3 linked regions of the Homo sapiens genome follow. The protein of the gene in region 1 interacts with the protein of each later gene in a pairwise test. Each region holds a gene or a part of one and is shown in the gene's direction. Other genes may lie near its edges.

The links. Proteins that work in one complex are often made in the same cells at the same time.
Region 2: the proteins of CHCHD2 (region 1) and ZMYND12 interact in binary tests that used the Homo sapiens proteins (3 or more experiments, as listed by UniProt).
Region 3: the proteins of CHCHD2 (region 1) and IKZF3 interact in binary tests that used the Homo sapiens proteins (3 or more experiments, as listed by UniProt).

What each region holds. Positions count from the first base shown.
Region 1 is NC_000007.14:56,103,477-56,111,455, reverse strand, and holds the start of CHCHD2 (coiled-coil-helix-coiled-coil-helix domain-containing protein 2 isoform 2 precursor), read left to right. Parts: upstream 1-4,979; 5' UTR 4,980-5,042; coding exon 5,043-5,092; intron 5,093-6,980; coding exon 6,981-7,230; intron 7,231-7,979. UniProt on the Homo sapiens protein: Transcription factor. Binds to the oxygen responsive element of COX4I2 and activates its transcription under hypoxia conditions (4% oxygen), as well as normoxia conditions (20% oxygen).
Region 2 is NC_000001.11:42,439,014-42,446,047, reverse strand, and holds part of ZMYND12 (zinc finger MYND domain-containing protein 12), read left to right. Parts: intron 1-6,022; coding exon 6,023-6,192; intron 6,193-7,034. UniProt on the Homo sapiens protein: Required for sperm flagellum function and male fertility.
Region 3 is NC_000017.11:39,757,209-39,763,337, reverse strand, and holds the end of IKZF3 (zinc finger protein Aiolos), read left to right. Parts: 3' UTR 1-5,620; downstream 5,621-6,129. UniProt on the Homo sapiens protein: Transcription factor that plays an important role in the regulation of lymphocyte differentiation. Plays an essential role in regulation of B-cell differentiation, proliferation and maturation to an effector state.

The sequences.
Region 1 (7,979 bases):
GCCTCCCAAAGTGCTGGGATTACAGGCATGAGCCACTGCACCTGGCCTTTTTAATTAAATTTAAATTGTAAATGTGGTCACTGTAGGAAATATGTGTATTACTTATCTACTGCTATGTAACAAATTACTCCAAACCTAGTGGCTTAAAATAAATACTTAGGGCCAGGCACAGTGGCTCATGCCTGTAATCCCAACACTTTGGGAGGCCGAGGTGGGCAGATCACAAGTCCAGAAGTTCAAGACCAGCCTGGGCGACATCATGAGACTCCATCTCTACAGAAAATGCAAAAATTAGCCAACCATGGTGGTGCGCACCTGTGGTCCCAGCTACTCAGGACGCTGATGCAGGAGAATCACTTGAGCCCGGGGGGCAGAGGTTGTAGTGAGCCAAGATCACACCACTGCACTCCAGCCTGGGTGACAGAGTGAGAGACTGTCTCAAAAATAAATAAATATAAAAAAAACTTAGATCTCCATTTCTGTGGGTCAGGAATTCAGGAGTGACATAGCTGGGTCATTTGGGCTCAGGGTGTCTCATGACATTGCAGTCAAGCTGTCGACTGAGACTGCAGTCACCTAAAGCCTGTTTCCAAGGTGGCTCACTTAAGGTGACTGCTGACCTGAGGCCTCACTTCCTGTCACATGAGCCTCTCTACAGGCTGCTTAGGTGTCATGGTGTGACAGCTGGCTTTCCCAAGTGAGTAATCAAAGAGTGAACAAGGAGGAAGCCACAGTACCTTTTATGATGTAGTTTGCAAAGTTGCAAACCATCACTTTTGCTTTTTCCTATCTGTCAGAAGGGAATCAGTTAACCCAGCCCCCACTCAAGGGGATAGGGACTGGGCTCCACCTTTTGAAGAGAATATCAAAGAATTTGTGGACATATTTTAAACTACCATGCTATGTTTAATTATGGCAAGTATGGTCACTGTAGAAAAACTGGAAAATAGGGACAAGCAAAAAAAAAAAAAGTCACTTATAATTCCATGACTCAATGGATGACAGTACTAGTTGGGTATATATAATTCCAATATTCAAAATATATATTTACTTTCTCAAACTATAAACACACTGTGTACTATTGTGTAATCTTCTCTTTCACACAATGTATTGTATGTATTGTAAAAATACCTTTCACGTCAAATATTCTTTCCTAACTTTTTTTTTTCTTGAGACGGAGTTTCCTTCTTGTCGCCCAGGCTGGAGTGCAGTGGTGCAATCTCTACTCACTGCAACCTCCGCCTCCCGGGTTCAAGCAATTCTCCTGTCTCAGCCTCCCAAGTAGCTGGGATTACAAGCATGAGCCACCCACACCCAGATAATTTTTTGTATTTTTAGTAGAGATGGGGTTTCACCATGTTGGCCAGGCTGGTCTCAAACTCCTGACCTCAAGTGATCCACCCACCTCAGCTCCCCAAAGTGCTGGGATTACAGGTTTGATCCACCGTGCCCAGCCCCTCATAATATTTTTTAATGGCTGCATACATTTCATCATATATATGTATCATAACTTATTTAACGAATTCTATTATAGGACACTTAGGTTGTTTACAAGTTTTTCCTGTTTTACACATTTTGTTAAATAAACATCCCTACGACACATTTATTTGTACAATCTTCACTGTTTCTTAAATTCCTAGAAGTAAAATTTCTGGAATACAGTTTGCATAATTTTAAAACTTCAAACACCTGTTACCTAATTTGAGCAGAATGTTTACTACAATATTCAAGAGTCCATTCAGCCAATGTCATATCTATGATAAAACCTGCAAAAGTTCGGATATTAATAACTGTAAGTAAATTTGTTGAGAGTGACTGAAATCACTATGGGATGAGAAGTTGCTATAGAAATTTTACTAAAGAGTGAACTAGCCAGGCACAGTGGCTCACACTTGTAATTCTAGCACTTTGGGAGGCCAAGGCAGGTGGATCACTTGAGGTCAGGAGTTTGAGACCAGCCTAACCAACATGGTGAAACCCCATCTCTACTAAAAATACAAAATTAGTCAGGTATGGTGGTGCACACCTGTAATCCCAGCTACTTGCGAGGCTGAGGCAGGAGAATTGCTTCAACCTGTGAGGTGGAGGTTGCAGCGAGCCAAGATTGCGCCTGGGCAACAAGAGCGAAACTCTGTCTCAAAAAAACAGAGTGAACTTCACACATCTGTCCCAGCAAACTATAAATGGTATATAGCAGAATTCTGGTATTTTCCATTCTGAGTTTTTTGTTCTTTGTTTTAATTAACTTTTTCTTAATTTGTTTTTTGGATAGAATAGATTAACTGCTTCAAAATCCAAAAGCTACTGACTGCCCCCCGCACCACAGACACCCAGTCCCACTGCCTGAAGGCAACCAGTGTTATCAACTTCAGATATTTTATGCATATCCAATATGGTCTTTTCTGTTTTACACAAATAATAGCACACTGTACTCAATTCTACCCCTTCCTTTTTTTTATCACTTGTAGTTTATTTTGGAAATCATTTCACATCAATATACAGAGAAGATTCCTCATTCTTTTTTTATAGTTGCATATTATGTGAATGTGTCTTTTTTTTTTTTTTTTTTTTTTGAGATGGAGTCTTGCTGTCGCCCAGGCTGGAATGCAGTGGTGCAATCTTGGCTCACTGCAACCTCTGCCTCCTGGGATCACGCCATTCTCCTGCCTCAGCCTCCCGAGTAGCTGGGACTACAGGCACGTGCCACCTCACCCGGCTAATTTTTGTATTTTTACTAGAGACAGGGTTTCACCATGTTAGCCAGGATGGTCTCAATCTGCTGACCTTGTGATCTGCCCACCTCGGCCTCCCAAAGTGCTGGAATTACAGGCGTGAGCCACCACGCCCAGCCTGCCATTATTTTTTTAACCAATATTCTATTGGCAGGAATTTAGGTTTTCTCCAATCCCTTACCAACACAAAATAACTTTGTGTGAACATCTAATAGTCTTTCAATTTAGGAATGAATGACTTAGCCACGTTTGAGTAAAATGGTGCCTGTTCTGGTCTGGATTCCTTTCTGTCTTGAACTGTCCAAAGTTCTCCTCGCTCTAAACCCTTCTTGTGCCAGAATGTATCCTTTATAAGACTGCTTTTCTTCATCTCTGCTTTTGAATTATCTAAAAGCAAGTAAAAAGTCTTATTATTTGTAAAGCATTCATTCTTTTAAGAAGTTATGTAAAAATAAAGCTTTGTTTTTTACAAAAGATTTTTATATAATTCACCCTTTTTATTGTTTGAAATCTTTTTATTTCAATACTTTTGGGGGAACAGGTGGTGTTTGGTTACATGGAAAAGTTCTTTAGTGGTGATTTCTGAGGTTTTGATGCACCCATCACCTGAGCAATGTACACCGTACTCAACAGTGTAGTCTTTTATCCCTTACCCACCTAGCACATCCCTCCAAATCCCCAGAGCCCATTATATCATTCTTTTGCCTTTGCATCCTCATAGCTTAGCTGCCACATTATTCACCCTTTAGTTCCAAGTACATTCTGCTGTTGCTGGGACACAGGAAGGCTGTTTTAAACTCTACTTCCTCTGATGGAAGGGAGAAATTTCTGATTGACATCAAGCAGAAATGGTTCCATGTGTGCTTCCTCTCCTCAATAAACCTCACTCCAACCGCAAGGGACTTTCCCATGAGCCCCTTATGAAATGCCACTAGCCAAATTTCCCCTTATTTTAGCGATGTTTAATGTAACTGTTGAAAGCATTTCAGGCTGGGCCTGGTGGCTTATGCCTGTAATCCCAGCCCTTGCAGGCCGAGGTAGATGGATCACCTGAGGTCAAGAGCTCAAGACCAGCCTGACCAACATGGCGAAACCCTGTTTCTACTAAAATAAAAAATTAGCCAGGCGGGTTGACGTGCGCCTGTAATCCCAACTACTCGGAAGGCTGAGGCAGGAGAATCGCTTGAATCCGGGAGGCGGAGGCTGCAGTGAGCTGAGAACGCGCCACTGCACTCCAGCCTGGGCGACAGAGCCAGACTCCGTCTCAAAAAAAAAAAAAAAGCATTTCACACCAAGTATCACTAAAGCACAGATCCTTGGGGCCTTTGCAATTGCTGTTCTCTCTTCCTGTAGTGTTCTTATCTTCATAAACACATGGCTTGCTTCCCCACCTCTTCAAGGGCTCCGTTCAAATGACTCCCCCCCGCCCCGCCTAACCTCTAATTTCCAGTCTCCTTCCTCTCTTTTCATGTCACCACCACCTGATTTACGTAGGCGTTTGTGTCTCCCCTCCTTGAAACTTAACTTCGTGAAGGTAGAATCTTATCTGATTTGGTGCAGTATCTCCATAACCCAGTTAGACAGTAAATTTTTGTTGAATTTACCAGTGTATGGTTACTGTCCCAATTCTGGACACAAATTCTATAATACATATGAAAAGGAGCTGAAAATATATAGTAATACATAAATGTAAAACATTATTGCTGCCTGAATTTAACTTTTGCTGACTGGATCCACAGACAAGAAAGAGAAATACCAAATACAACTAATTCAACTCTGTTTATTTTTGACGAAACCGATTTCTTTCATTCAGTTCATACTACGCGTCCACACTGTGCCTCCAAAAATATTTGCCCTTATAACTGAATGCTCAGAAAGGCTAAGAAATCTGCCCAAGGTCCCCTGGCAATCCAGCCAGAGATGTGAGTCACTCTTAAGGTTGGATTTAATACAAATGTTTGAAGGACGGAGCGACAGGCCAGCTGCCCTAGGGAAGCAAAATGCTAAGTGCTCTGATGCGAGGACCGGAGGACAAGGTTCGCGGATGAACCACAGGAACTTCCGGGTTTTAAAGATCCTGGCGCCAAGTTCAGGGCGTTGACCGCGAAGGACGAGGCGTCCCCGTGACGTCCTGCTCTTCCAATGAACTTCAGGCCTGCGGAGACGACGGAGAACGGAAGTTCTCTGCCTGTGTGCTGGTTGGTTGCGCGTTGAGGCCAGCCCCGCCTCCCATCTTCCGGTCTCCTCAGAAGTCGCTTAGCTCTTCGGTGGTTGTCCCACGTCCGGAGGCCTAGCCGTCGCTTACCTAGGATGCCGCGTGGAAGCCGAAGCCGCACCTCCCGCATGGCCCCTCCGGCCAGGTGAGACCATCGCAGGGTTTGAGACCAAAGCGCGGCCGTCCGGACTCTACTGGGGCAATGACGCAGAGGGAGGCCGCGGGCGGGGGTGAACTAAGGTCGGCTGCGGCGTGGGCTCGCCTCTGCCAGGCGGGGGTAGATTGAACGTAAAGCCTATGTTAGGGGAGTGTGGGGAGGGAATTCACTTACGGAAAAAGCTTCCTATCCAAACAACGGGAAAGGCATAACGTTATGGCCAGGTGGTAGGAAGGCATAAATTTTGACCTAGCTTGATTTCGGGGAAAAGAGCACCCAAGGAAATAATCCGGAAATGGTCAGAGGGAGCGTGATACATATGAAGATTTTTAAATACGTGCAGGACATAATTAGTCTTTTGTTATTTGAGAAGGGGTCTCGAAATTGTTGAAAGCATCTGAACGTTGAACAGATGAGGAATAGTTGAAGTTGCTTTTGGTATAATAGTTCAGACGAGTCACTTTGGCCAGTCTTGTTTTGTAATGTGTAAAATGAAGGAATTGGACTAGATTATTTCCCCAGTTGACCATCTTTAAGTCCTAATTAGAATGTTTATTTATTTATATTTTGAGTCAGAGTCTAACTCAGGCTGTAGTGCAGTGACGTAATTATGGCTAACTGCAGCCTTGACTTCCTGGGCTCAAGCTATTCTACCACGTCAGCCTCCAGAGTAACTGGGACTACAGGCATGCGCCACCTGTGCACCACACTTGGCGACTTTATTCTATTTTATATTTTAGCAGAGACAGGGTCTCATTATGTGGCCCTGGCTGGTCTCAAAGTCCTGGCCTCAAATGATCCTTTCGCCTCCACTTCCCTAATCACTGGGATTACAGGCAAGAGCCACCACTCCGCAGCCTATGTTAATTATTTGATCCGTCAATAAAATGTAAACTCCATGAATGCAGAGATTTTTGTCTCTTGTTCACAGTTACATTACCAGCGCCTTGTAGTTACCTAATACTTGAATGAATGAATCCTGTAAGAATCTTTCTAACTTTTAGTAGTCTGTATTTCTTATGACATGTTGGATATGTCTTTAAAGATACTGTGGGCTATCCGAATACATGGAAATTGTTGCAAAGAAGCAGAAAAAACTAGTATGTCCTAGGCTATTACTATTATAAGAAAAGATTAAAGTGGCCGGGCGTGGTGGCTCATGCCTGTAATCCCAACACTTTGGGAGGTCGAGGCGGGTGGATCACTTGAGGTCAGGAGTTCGAGACGAGCCTGGCCAACATGGTGAAACTCCGTCTCTACTAGAAATACAAAAATTAGCTAGGTGTGGTGGTGCGCGCCTGTAATCCCAGCTACTTGGGAAGCGGAGGCAGAAGAATCGGTTGAACCCAGGAGGCAGAGGTTGCAGTGAGATTGGATCGTGACACTGCACTCCAGTCTGGGCATCAGAGTGAGGCCCTGTCTCAAAAAAAAAAAAAAAATTAGGCCGTGCGTGGTGGTTCACACCTGTAATCCCAGCACTTTGGGAGTCCGAGGCGGGTGGATCACCTGAGGTCAGGAGCTGGAGACCAGCCATGGTCACCATAGTGAAACCTCGTCTCAACTAAAAATACAAAAAATTAGCCGGAGGTGGTCGCGGGTGCCTGTAATCCCAGCTACTCGGAAGGCTGAGGCAAGAGAATCGCTTGAGTCTGGGAGGTGGAGGTTGCAGTGAGCTGAGATTGCACCATTGCACTCCAGCCTGGGCAACAAGAGCGAAGCTCCATCTCAAAAAAAAAAAAATTGAAGAGAGAAAATGATGTAAATAATTTGAAATGAAAATCTTGAGGTCCATTTTAATATGTAAGTTATTTTAAGTTGACAATTTCCAAAACTGGTTGGAATTGGGAACTTGATGTTTTTTTCTTTTCTTTCACAGCCGGGCCCCTCAGATGAGAGCTGCACCCAGGCCAGCACCAGTCGCTCAGCCACCAGCAGCGGCACCCCCATCTGCAGTTGGCTCTTCTGCTGCTGCGCCCCGGCAGCCAGGTCTGATGGCCCAGATGGCAACCACTGCAGCTGGCGTGGCTGTGGGCTCTGCTGTGGGGCACACATTGGGTCACGCCATTACTGGGGGCTTCAGTGGAGGAAGTAATGCTGAGCCTGCGAGGCCTGACATCACTTACCAGGTGGGAATTTAGGCAGCATTTCCCTTCCATGGGTGGATTTTATGAGAAAAGCCAGACGTTTGTAAGTTCCTTAAGTGTAGGAATTGTCTTTGATTTTAGAACCCACTGTGCTGTTAATAGACAATGGGTTTTAAAGCCACATTTGGCCGTTGAGTTACTGCCTTAGGCCAGCACCAACAAGTACTGTACAAATTGTGTTTCTTCCCAAGGAGGAGACTTACAACAGTCCACTTGACTCACTGTAAAACAACCACTTTTCCCTTTGAATATTTCATCCCAGTGACACTTCCTACTAATCTTGTCTTGATCTTAGTTAACAAATCAAAAATCTCGCATAGCTGTGTGTTCTTTTACGTGATGTTTGCCATTACCCATCTTTCTGATGTGTGTGGGCTTTCTAGTCTAATGAGCATAGGTGTGTATACTCTTGTATTTCCGGTGTGCTTGAAACTGCTCCATCCAGTTTTCTATAATAGTACCATTTTTCCTCCCTGAAGCTTCAGTAAACCATTTAGTCTTGATAACAAGATAATAATTCCACTTTATTTGCATCTTTATTTAGGAATCTTTCTGGTTGTAATTGGAATTTTGTTAAAACTGTTGGCTTTCAGCTTTTAAATATTTTCACTTTTGGCTGGGAACGGAGGCTCATGCCTATAATCCCAGCACATTGGGAGGCTGAAGTGAAGGGATTGCTTGAACCCAGAAGTTTGAGACCAGGCTGGGCAACATAGCGCAACCCTGTCTTT
Region 2 (7,034 bases), on another chromosome or scaffold:
CTGCAGGAATGCCCTGCTCACCCTGCCCAGGTCTGACACCCCATTCCAGACTGTCTTTCCTCCAAAGTAATGAGAAAAGCACTGGACAAGAAAATACAGCCCAGGTTCTGTTTACCTCTGACACTGGCTAGCTATGGGATTCTGGAAAAGTCACCCTAGCCCAAGTCTCATCATCTCTCATCTAGACCACTGCCTACTAACTGGTCTCCCCACATCATCTCTGGCCTCCCTCCAATGTGGTTTGCATACAAAAATGTGACCCATCACTCCTCTAAATAAAGATCAAATTTCTAAAGCAACCCATGAGGCTCTGCTTGATCTAGCCGTTAACAAATTCTCTCACCTCAATTCTATCACCTTGTCTCTCTTGAATTATTTTCTCCCTCCCTTCCAGTTACACCGACCGGCCTTCTCTCAGTTCCTCAGAAGCATGATGATTTCCTTGTTTGGAAAGGCTTTTCTGTAGCCACTCTCTCTGCTTCTCCTCCTCTTCCCTTCACCAAATTAACTCCTTATCATCTTTCAGGTTTCAGCTCAAGGGTTACTACTGCCTTGTCTAGAAGCTTTCCCAGGGCTCCAGACCAGGTTGGGTCTCCCCTTTTTTTTTTTTTTTTTTAGACGGAGTCCCGATCTGTTGTACAGGCTGGAGTGCAATGGCCTGATCTTGGCTCACTGCAACCTCTGCCTCCCAGGGACAAGTGATTCTCCCACCTCAGCCTCCCGAGTAGCTAGGACTACAGGCACGCACCACCACGCCCAGCTATTTTTTGTAGTTTTAGTAGAGATAGGGTTTCAGTATGTTGCCCAGGCTGGTCTTGAACTCCTGGCTTCAAATGATCCACCCACCTCAGTCTTCCAAAGTGCTGGGATTACAGGTGTGAGCCACCGCACCCAGCTGGGTCTCATTTTTAATATACTTGTTTAAAGAACTACCCTTTCTGGCCGGGCACGGTGGCTCACACCTGTAATCCCAGCACTTTGGCAGGCTGAGGTGGGCGGATCACGAGGTCAGGAGATCGAGACCATCCTGGCGAACACGGTGAAACCCTGTCTCTACTAAAAATACAAAAAAATTAGCCGGGCGTGGTGGCGGGTGCCTGTAGTCCCAACTACTCTGGAGGCTGGAGCAGGAGAATGGCATGAACCCGGGGGGCGGAGCTTACAGTGAGAGGAGATCGCACCACTACTGCACTCCAGCCTGGGTGACAGAGCGAGACTCCGTCTCAAAAAAAAAAAAAAAAAAAAGAACTACTCCTTTCTTCTGAGCACTTAGTCCATTAATAATTGTATTCATTGATGAGATTATTTAATTGTCTCCCTGCTCCAGTAGACTGTAAGCTCAGGGGAGAACTGGATCTGTGTCTATTCTTAATTATCACGGATGTCTTCACACTCAGCCCAGTACTTAGCACAGAGAAGGTACTAAAAAGATAATTTCACAGTACCTGAAACCTCGTGAGCACTGTGTAAGTATGTGTTGAATCTGAGTTGTCTTCACAGGATTCTTTTAAGGGTGAAATGAGTTCGAGTGTAATGACCATGAAAGTGCTTTGAAGTCTGGAAAGTACTGTCTAAATGGAAGATTTCACTGTAACTTCACAGTCATTGGTTTAAAACCTTGCTAACGTTTCTGGAAGTCTAAAGAAATCACTTTCCTGTGCACATGTTTCTTTCCCATCTTAGAGATTACTTCAGACTGGAGTGATTTGGAAGCAGGAGAGCCTGAGTTCAAATATCATCTCTTTCTTTACTGTCTGGGTGATCGTAGGCACCAAGCTCTTCCTCACTCAGAGCTCTCACATATATGGTTCCTTCTGCCTGGGATGCTCTTTTCTCTCTCATACGTGGCTGGCTTTTGATCATCCTTCAGGTGTCTGCTTAAACTGGCCAGGCATGGTGACTCCCACCTGTAATTTCAGCACTTCGGGAAGTCGAAATGGGAGGATCTCTTGAGCCCAGGAATTCAAGATCAGCCTGGGCAACCTAGCAAGACCTCATCTCTTAAAACAAAAAAATTAGGCGGTCATGGTGGCATGCACTTATAGTAGTCCCAGCTACTTGGGAGACTGAGGTGGGAGGATTGCTTGAGCCCAGCAGGTGGAGGCTGCAGTGAGCTAGGATTTTGGTTACTGTGTTCTGTTCATTTCCTTCACAGCACTCATGTTTTGTCTATTTATTGTATGCCTACTTCACTTGATTTTAAGCTTCTTGGAGTCAGGGATCATGTCTTAGTGTGCATTGAGCATCATGCATTGTGATAGAGACTCAATCAATTAGGTGAATATATGTTTGGTTGAATGAATGAATGAAGTTGCCTCCTCTTCAAATTCCTCATCTGATGATTATTTCACAGGGTTGTTAGCAGACTTAGACCACCGATGCAAAGGGACTAGCACAATGTTGGGCAAATAACAGGTCTTCAATAAATACAGATTCCCTTTTCTTCCCCTGGGCACCTCACAGCCACAACCTTTGACTCAGCTGTGACTGCTGTATGCTGCATTCCTTCACTTTCATCACCAAGTCCTGCAAAATCTTCTCCCATAATATCTCCCAGATCTGCCGTTAACCCAGTGTAAGCCTGTTGCCTCACCCTTCAGACAAGTACCACTGGTCTGTAAGTGGCTGTCCTTTCCCAATTCCATACACTAGTAAAATCACCCTAAGGGATAGTATCACTTCCTTTATGTCTCCACCACCTCCACTTCACCCTATGCCTCTCCAGGTAGGCACTGTCCATAAGAGGCAGGCCTGAACTTACGCACTCACTGGTCACAAGCTTAGTTCTGACTGTAATCTCATGGGCTAGTAGTAGCCCATTCTTCTCACCGTACTCTCTCTCTCTAGCCTCACAGTTTATTCTCCCAAGTATGCCTTTTCCTTTAGGACTGATGCTTGTTTAGATGCTGGTTCAGCTGGGCCTTGGAGTCTTCATTCTTTGGCATTGCCTCCTTGAGTGAGAACTGGATGTTGAAAATTTTAAATTTCCAATATTTGTCAATGCCCTGTCCCATTTTTTTCCCATCTAAACAATCTTAGTTAAGAGTCATTTGCTTCTTCAAATGTGAGAGGACTTCAGCCTAAACCTCATATTTTATAGACAAAGCCTGGAGGGAAGATGTGACTTGCCATGTTCACATGAGCCAGGATCAGGGACTAGGCCTCGTGCTCCTAATCTAGTAGTTTCCCATTTTAGTTTGCACTTTGACCTTCCATCAGGCAAAGTTACTTCCTTCTTCTTGTAGACTGCTTCCTCTTCATCTCTTTTCCTTTAATTCAGTGATGTAGGGTTACAACTAGAATAAAAGCATGCTTACATATGAACTAGGTCTGACAGGAAGGACACAGAGGAGCAGAGGGTTGGCTTATGAGGGGTTCGTGTCCTTACCTCTTAACCCTTTGTTGATGCCATTTCTGCTGCAGCACCTATCACACCAATGCTTCGCCCCCAGAGCACGCCTCCTACCCTGCAGCACACTGACGTAGTGGCTTTCTATTCTGTTCTGACAAATTTCCCCAGGAGTCAAGCAGGTAGGCAGGCCTCTGTATATATAAAGATGATATGTAATACACAAAAAGCTTTAAGTGTCAAGAGTATCTAAATATTAGCAATAAATGTGGCTTTCCTTTCTCTTACCTTCCACATTACTTAGTAACCGTGTGTTGTCCATTTTACTTCCTGTCTCTTTTTGATCTCCTCCTCTTTAGTTCACTGTCTTGTTTCAGGCTCTTAAGCGTGCTTGTCCGAACTATTTCAGACATCTTCCAGTGAATCTTCTACCTTTATTCCTCCCCTCTGGTCCCTCCTCCACATTGGTTCCAGAGGATCTTTCTAAATTTAAATCTGATTCTCTCGCCCTTTTTGAAAATCCTCTAGTTTTTATCCACATGCATCAAGTTCCTTGGTATAACTCACTAAGCCCTCCATGACCTGCCCCCTGCCTACCACCATAGCCTCATTTTCTGCCATTCTGTCTTTCACAATTTGTGCTCCAGCATCACAGGCCGATACAGTCCCTACACCCTCCATATTTGTAGGTTCTGCATCTGCCCATTCAAGCAACCATGGGTCAAAAATATTTTTAAAAATAATACAATGATTAAAAATGATACAAATAAAAACAATACGGCCGGGTGCGGTGGCTCACGCCTGTAATCCCAGCACTTTGGGAGGCCGAGGCGGGCGGATCACAAGGTCAGGAGATCGAGACCATCCCGGCTAAAACGGTGAAACCCCGTCTCTACTAAAAATACAAAAAATTAGCCGGGCGTAGTGGCGGGCGCCTGTAGTCCCAGCTACTTGGGAGGCTGAGGCAGGAGAATGGCGTGAACCTGGGAGGCGGAGCTTGCAGTGAGCCGAGATCCCGCCACTGCACTCCAGCCTGGGCGACAGAGCAAGACTCCGTCTCAAAAAAACAAAACAAAACAAAACAATACATGATGTTACTTGTGGGCTTATAAACAAAAAAAGAAAAAATGTAAACAAAAAAGACAAAAATGATATAGTAGAACAACTATTTACATAGCATTTACTTTGTATTAGGTATTATAAGTAATTTAGAGATGATTTAAAGCATAGGGAATGATGTGCATAGGTTATATGCAAATACTACACTACTTTATATTAGAGCCTTGAGCATCCTTATATTTAGGTATCTGATGGGGGTTCTGGAACCAGTTCCCTGCAGCTGTGACTCTATATAGTTCTATGAACATAACATATTATTTCATATTTCTATGACATTGCACATGCTGTTACTTCTGCCTGGGATGCTCTCCCTGCCTTATCTACCTGGAAAACTTCTATTCATCCTCAAAACCCAGCTCAGACTCTGCTTCAGTGTCCCTCTCCATCTCATCTATAGAATTAAACATTTCCTATCCTCTGACACTTCCAAAGCTTGTGTTGCTATTGCAATTATACTATATTGTAAATATATTTGTTTTCATGTTGCACTTTGATTCCCCATCACCCAACACAAGGCCTGGCACAGAAAGGGTATTAAATATGCATATATATATTTCACAATTGAGATATAATTCACATATCATAAAATTTACCCTTTTAAAGAACAATTAAGGCCAGACACAGTGTCTCACGCCTGTATTCCCAGCACTTTGGGAGGTCGAGGTGGGTGGATCACCTGATGTCAGGGGTTTGAGACCAGCCTGGCAAACATGGTGAAACCCTGTCTCTACTAAAAATACAAAATTAGTGGGGCGTGGTGGTGCATGCTTGCAGTCCCAGCTACTTGGAAGGCTGAGGCATGAGAATCACTTGAACCTGAAGGCAGAGGTTGTAGTGAGCCGAGATCGCGCCACTACACTCCAGTCTGGGCAACAAAGTGAGACTCCCTCAAAAAAACAACAACAACAACAAAAAAAGGACAATCCAGTGGTTGGTTTTAGCACATTCTGAAGGTTGTGCAACAATCACCATGATCTATTTCCACAACATTTTCATCACCCCTAAAAGAAAGCCTGTAATTGTCAGCAGTTACTCCCTCTTAGTGCCTCCCTTGCATTGGACCCCCTGTTAGTGCCTCCCTTGCATTGGACTCCCCCTGTCGCCTGGCCACCACTAGTCTACTTTCCGTCTCTATGGATTTGCCTATTCTGGACATTTCATATAAATGGAATCATACAATATGTGGCCTTTGGTGTCTGGTTTCTTTCACTTAGTATAGTGTTTTCAAAGTTCATCCACATTATAGCAGGTAGCACTACTTCATTCCTTCTTATGACTGAGTAATATTCCACTCATGGAGATGGAGATGGAGATGGAGATGGAGATGCCTCCTTTTGTTCATCCACTCATCAGCTGATGGACATTTACATTGTTTCTGTTTTTTTTTTTTTTACTCTTCCAAATAGGCTGCTGTGAACATTCCTGTATGAGTTTTTCTGTGTCAATAAATACTTGAGTCAATGAATACATGAGTGAATGGGTAATGACTCATATTTCCTCATGTGTTCTTTGGCCTGGATATGAATTATAACCTTCTTTTCTGCTTTTGGGCAGGTCTGGGCCGAATCGTTCAGGCTGAAGAATATCTATTCCAAGCCCAGTGGACAGTCCTCAAATCAACTGACTGTAGTAATGCCACCCACTCTTTACTGCATCGGAATCTGGGACTTCTCTATATAGCTAAGAAAAACTATGAAGAGGCCCGTTATCATCTGGCCAATGATGTAAACAAGCTAAGTTATAACACCTGTATATTTCCAAAATCTAAATTATAACACCTGTATATTTCCAAAATCTGTTTAATTTTTTTAAAACTGTGCATTTCTCTAAAACTTTCTGTTTACAACTGATTATTTGGTGGGATGTTAGCCATAACACAATTCTACCGACCCGAGTTCAAGCATTTCTACTTCATAGCTATTCAACCTTGGCCAGGTCACATATTCCTGAAGTTTCAGTTGCCCTGAAGAGTAAAGGGAGGCAAAACAGCATACTCGTTAAGAGAAGGGCTTTGCTGGCCGGGCATGGTGGCTCATGCCTGTAATCCCAGCACTTTGGGAGGCCAAGGTGGGTGGATCACGAGGTCAGGAGATTGAGACCGTCCTGGCCAACATGGTGAAACCCCGTCCCTACTAAAATACAAAAAATTAGCCAGGCGTGGTGGTGCATGCCTGTAGTCCGAGATACTCGGAAGGCTGAGGCAGGGGAATCACCTGAACCCGGGAGGTGGAGGTTGCAGTGAGCCGAGATCGCGCCACTGCACTCCAGCCTGGCGACAGAGCAAGACTTCGTCTCAAAAAAAAAAAAAGAGAGAGAGAGAAGGGCTTTGCTTCTAGTCACAGATCTGTTTCACTAGCCACATCGTCTTGGAAAATTTGTTTAACCTCTTTCATCACCTGCAAGACAGGAATAATAAAATAGTCTCTGTCTCACTGGGTCATTGCGAAGATTAATAATAGGACAATAAATGTATAGTACCTTGGCTATTATTTTAAAAAATAACAGTAATATCTCTACTTCAGAGTGTTGGTTATTAAATTTAAAAGAGCTAGATGTATAAGAAAGC
Region 3 (6,129 bases), on another chromosome or scaffold:
TATGCATTCGGCTCCAACTCAACTCGTCTATGTGCTGCCAGTAATTAAAATGTTCCACCTCAGACTGCACAAATGGCTTATCCTTCTTTGTGGCATGGCGTCTGTCTCAGGAAAAAAGGTTTTATGAAATTCCATGGCAACAGTCCCAACATGTTTGAGACTTCAGCTAAAGGAATGGATGTATTTTGGTGTGTAGTCTTCAGTATATCACTGTATTTCCGTAATACTAGACTCCAAGCTATGCCAGATTGCTTATTCCCTTTGTGAAAGAGGAGTTGCTCATTACGTTCTTGAAATATCGCACATCCTGTTGGTTCTTCAAGGGACAAGAGAAAGAGAATTTGGAAGCAGGGATTAGTAGAAGAGAAAACGAGGGAAAGGAAGCCTTTCCACCAGATTAGTGTTCAAGTCTTTGCAGAGGAGACCAACTTTTTTTGTTTTCTTTTGTTTTGAGACAGTCTCTCGCTCTGTTGCCCAGGCTGGAGTGCAGTGGCGCGATCTCGGCTCACGGCAACCTCCGCCTCCCGGGTTCAAGCAATTCTCCTGCCTCAGCCTCCCAAGTAGCTGGGATTACAGGTGCTCACCACCAAGCCCGGCTAATTTTTGTATTTTTAGTAGAGACAAGGTTTCACCATGTTGGCCAGGCCAGTCTCAAACTCCTGACCTCAGGTGATCTGCCCGCCTTGGCCTCCCACAGTGCTGGGATTACAGGCATGAGCTACCGCACCCAGCCTGAGACCACCTTTTGCATCTCAAGATTGTGAAACCAAGGCCCATTCCACCAGCCTGGGGACTCTTTTTATAGATATGATCCTCCTTTTTCCTGTGACTAATGAATTTGCTGCATGATTTCTATTCTTCTGAGGTTAGTTTTCTGAGTAAGGTGACCACTCACAAAGGCACTTTCTTTGTGGCATTCTGAGCCTAGATTGGGGCCCATCAATTCCAGAAAAAATTTATGTGTGGAAACTCTGCATCCTTAAGTCTTGAAGTTGAACCAGATATGCAGTGGTTACCATCACACAGATAAACGCTGCCTTCTGTACATACCCCTTATGCTGTACTAATTAACAAACCCCTTGCCAGGGCTGGGGAGGTGAGGGTGAAGGAGAATCTTAGCAGAAGGGCAGAGTCAGGACTTGCATCTGCCACTGCTGGGCACTGAAGCCCTGGAGCAGCTTCAGATAGTACCTGTACTTTCTCATGCAGACTCCCTCTGAACAAGAGCCTTGTAGGCCCCTCTCCTTCATTTCCCACCAGCCTCTTATCAGGCGGGCTTTCCACCATACACCCAGGAGGCCACGGTCTGAGGAACAACCAAACCCATGCAAAGGGCCGGGCGCGATAGCTCACGCCTGTAATGCCAGCACTTTGGGAGGCTGGGGCAGGCAGATCACCTGAGGTTGGGAGTTCGAGACCTGCCTGACCAACATGGAGAAACCCCCATCTCTACTAAAAATACAAAATTAGCCGGGCGTGATGGCACATGCCTGTAATCCCAGCTACTCAGGAGGCTGAGGCAGGAGAATCGCTTGAACCCGGGAGGCGGAGGTTGCGGTGAGCCGAGATGGCACCACTGCACTCCAGCCTCGGCAACAAGAGCGAAACTCTGTCTAAAACAAAAACAAACAAACAAACAAAAAAACCCAGGCAAAGTTTCCTTGCAGCCAAGGTGACAGAACTGGGCTGAGGGTGGAAAAGAAACAGAACCAGTGCTCCAGGTGTTTTTTAATTTTTTAATTTATTTTTATTTTTTTTGTATATGTATATATATGTATGTATATTTTAGAGGACCAGGGTCTCACTATGTTGCCTAGGCCAGACTCAAACTCCTGTGCTCAAGCAATCCTGCCTCAGCCTCCCAAGTAGCTGGGATTACAGGCATGCACAAACAATGCCCAGCTCTCCAAATGTTTTCTGTCACTACCTGAAGTGTTGCATCGGTACTTCCTACGGAAAGAAAACTAAATAGAAGTGTCTCTCCCGTGAGCCCCCACCACTACCACCAGAAAAAAAAAAGAGAGAAAATGAACTCATCAGTCTTTAGTTTCCTCAAGTTATTCTCCCAAAAAGACATTCGCCTTGGCACAGATAAGCCAGCTAATCTTATGCTTTATGACCCACTGTGAGCTGTTCCTGACACAGCTTCTGACTTTGTCAGTGACAAAATTTCTCACCTTTTAAATGCAGTGCTTAACATTTTGTTAGGCCCATACTCAAAATCGGCCAGATATAAAATGACCTCAGATTTTGATCTCCTAGGCTCAAACAATCCTCCTACCTCAGCCTCCCAAGTAGCTGGGACTATAGGCACACCACCATGCACAGCTAATTTTTTTTGTATTTTTCTGCAGAGATGGCGTTTCGCCATACTGCCCAGGCTAGTCTCAAAATCCTGGGCTCAAGCAATCTGCCCACCTCAGCCTCCCAAAGTGCTGGAACTACAGGCAAGAGCCACTGCGCCCAGCCACAACCTCAGATTTCTTTGGCAAACAGAAATGTTTAAAAACACAAAATTTTGCTCAGGTGAAACACTGTGTTACTATCAAATCTCACATCCACATAAAGTTTTTCTTTTCGGCTTTGTTTCGTGAGGAACAGACAGAACAAAGTTTTTCCAGGTAGCATCTGTATCACTATTATTCTCCTATTTCCTGTACCACCCCCACCTCCCCAAGCCCTACTGAATGTGAGGTTTAGAATGTTTTAAGGAGGGTCAGGTGCGGTGGCTCACGCCTGTAATCCCAGCACTTTGGGAGGCCAAGGCGGGCGGATCACCTGAGTTTGGGAGTTCGAGACCAGCCTGACCAACATGGAGAAACCCTGTCTCTACTAAAAATACAAAATTAGCCAGGCGTGGTGGCACATGCCTGTAATCCCAGCTACTTAGGAGGCTGAGGCAGGAGAATCGCTTGAACCCAGGAGGAGGAGGTTGTGGTGAGCCGAGATCGTGCCATTGCACTCCAGCCTGGGTGACAGAGTGAGACTCCATCTCGAAAAAAAAAATACAAAAATTAGCTGGGTGTGGTGGTGCACACCTGTAATCCCAGCTACTCGGGAGGCTGACGCAGGAGAATTGCTTGAACCTGGGAGGTGGAGGTTGCAGTGAGCCGAGATCGCGCCATTGCAATCCAGCCTGGACAACAGAGTGAGACTCCATCTCAAAAAAAAAAAAAAAAAGAATGTTTTAAGGAAAAAAATAGTACTGTTACATATAATCCCAGGTGATAAGACCACAATGGAAATGTTTAAGTCCTCACTTTAAAGAGTACCCCACTGAGAAGAGGTATGTTGGACTCTAGCAGAGATTTGGAAACTCTGGGACACTCAAGATGTGAAAGAGCCTGGCTATCTGAGGACTCAAAGAGTCAGCATCGGGACTTGTGAGCTCAAGAAGAGAAAAGGGAGTGGTGAAACTTTGTCCTAAAAGTTAGCACCAGGAACAGAAGAAAAAAACCCGATATATAGTGATACCTCATCTTTTAGAGAATGGGAAGCTATTTTTGTGTTCACACAGAAAGTATAGTTCAAAAAACCTCTATATCCAGAGTTCAGACAAGGAGAATGATTTGAGATATAAGTGCCGATGAAGGAGGTCAATTTTGATCTGAAACCAGCAGCTGGACCTGGGCCACCTCAGGAAAAGGACTCTGTTCTCCAAGGCAGCACGACTGAATGGTTCTGAGAATAAGCCAGGGTTCAGGACTCCTGACCCTTTAGGACCATGGACTCAGAAGAGCCTGAAGGACAATTGTGGGCTTTAAACTTCTGAGAGCTTGTAAAGTAACACAAGACTGTGCCTCTCCCTTGCCCCAGCTGTAGATAGTCTTTGCCCCACCATTGTTATGAAGATACACAGGGTTTTGCAGTTTGAATAAATTGGATACAAGTTTCCTCTTTTTTTTTTTCTTTTTGAGACAAAGTCTCGCTCTGTTTCCCCAGGCTGAGTGCAGTGGCACAATCAAGGCTTACTTGCCGCCTCAACCTCCTGGGCTCAAGCAACGAGCCATCCTCCCGTCTTAGCCTCCCAACTAGCTGAGACTACAGGCGTGGGTCACCACACCCAGCTAATTTTTGTACTTTTTGTAGAGACAGGGTCTCACCATGTTGCCCAGGCTGGTCCTGAACTCCTGGGCTCAAGTAATCTGCCCACCTCAGCCTCCCAAAGTGTTGGGGTTACAGGCGTGAGGCACCGCGGCTGGCCTGAGTTTCTTCTTAATACTGTATCACAATTGTGGGCTGTCTTATGTGTTGATATCGATTGAGCTATTTGAAATAGGAATGTTAATGGGTGTATTAAATTTTTGTAAGGATATAACAATATCTACCTTCCAAGGATGTTGTGAGGTTTTCCATGATTTTGTATATGAGCTAATGTTACCTTTGAGGGGTGGTGTGCATTATGTTGGATGATTGTAAATTTTCAGTGGAAAATGTACCGTGTCCTAAATTTAAAGACATGAAAAATATCCCAAGATCATACTAGATCATAATAGCAATTCCTTTACAAATGAATTATGGAGGTAACTGATCTCTAACAGTTTCCTTCATGTTGTTTTAATGCACAAGGGCAGAGGATCTGCTGACCCTTGGAACCAGCGTGAGCTAACCACGTGCTATAGACACTTCATGGTGTCGCACCCAGGGAAGTCAAAGCGCTTTGCTCCCTCACTGTCTGTGAGTCCTCAGCCATTAGTACCCCACCCCCCGCTGCTCCAAAACTTGAGTTATTTCAAATGTTTCTCACTGTTCATCTCTCCACTGACCCCACTCCAGAAAGCCTGGAGAGAGTCCCAAGATGCCACCCACCTTCCCCAATCCCTCGCCACAGATCTGTGTCTATCTCACACTCTGTAAGTGCCGCTTTGCTTCTTCCTCTCTTGAAAAGACTGAGAACACACATTTTAACATGTTAGGAAAATGGGGCAGCCTAAAAAATGACTGATCCCACCGCCAGTGACTCATGTATACTCCAGGCTAGCAGACAAGGCCCTTTTTGGTGGGCCTGCTTCTGTGGGTTCACAGAAACCAAATTACTGTGGGTTGCAAAGAATTAGCAGGTCATTTACAAAGCAGACATCCCTTCACCCAGACTGTGGTTTTGCATGCTCAGGTTCTCAGTCTATGAGCTTTGGTGCAGGATCATTTTGGCTACTGGAAAAACCATAGCTTATTTTAAATTTCTGGTTGCCAAAGCCACCACACGTGTGGTCTGTGGATGACCATTGTCTGCAGAATGACGAGGAAGGAACAGAATGTGGTTTGGGGCTCAGGGTGGCCTTCCCACTGGGAGGGAAGGCGGGAGGGAGCCCTTGCCCTGGGTTTTGACACAGCCTGTGCTCACAGCCTCTCCTCTCATCTGCATTTCTCAGAAATGCCCTCCCTGCCCAGTGGTGACTTTCCCTCGTCACTCCTATGGAGTTCTACCTGGAGCCCAGCCATGTGTGGAACTGTGAAGTTTACTCCTCTGTAAAGATGGTTTAAAGAAAGTCAGCTTCTGAAATGTAACAATGCTAACCCTTGCTGGAACCCTGTAAGAAATAGCCCTGCTGATAGTTTTCTAGGTTTATCATGTTTGATTTTTACACTGAAAAATAAAAAAATCCTGGTATGTTTGAAATTAGTCCTTGTGCATCCTTATCACTTATGATTTGTGTCTGCTGGTGTCAGGATGTAGAAGGGTTTCATCCCGCCCCAAGGAATACTTTCTTAATTTTGCCCCTCTATTTCTTAAAGTCCAGTTATCAAGAAAAATGAATTATCACTGAAATAAAGGTTCTCACCTGACGCCTTGCTGAGCCTACCACTGTGATCCTGCTGCTGGCCCCTGTAACCCACAAGATAGGGTTCCTGGTTCCACTGGTCCTTAGTTCACTAAGGAAACTGGAGGAGGTTGAGGACCTGGACTTAGCATGATCAGCACATTCAGCATGGTGCACCCCTATTCCAAGTCACTGCTCTGCCTTCCTCCCTCAACAGAGATTCTTCTTAAAATACAGTCAAGTTCTGACTTTTTCATGTGTGGGGGCTCACAGACATCCACATTGGGAAACTTGAGTTGCAGTCCTTAAACTCGACCATATTTAAATACAGTTTTTAGATACCTGGAGACCCAAACCGAAGGTGTTA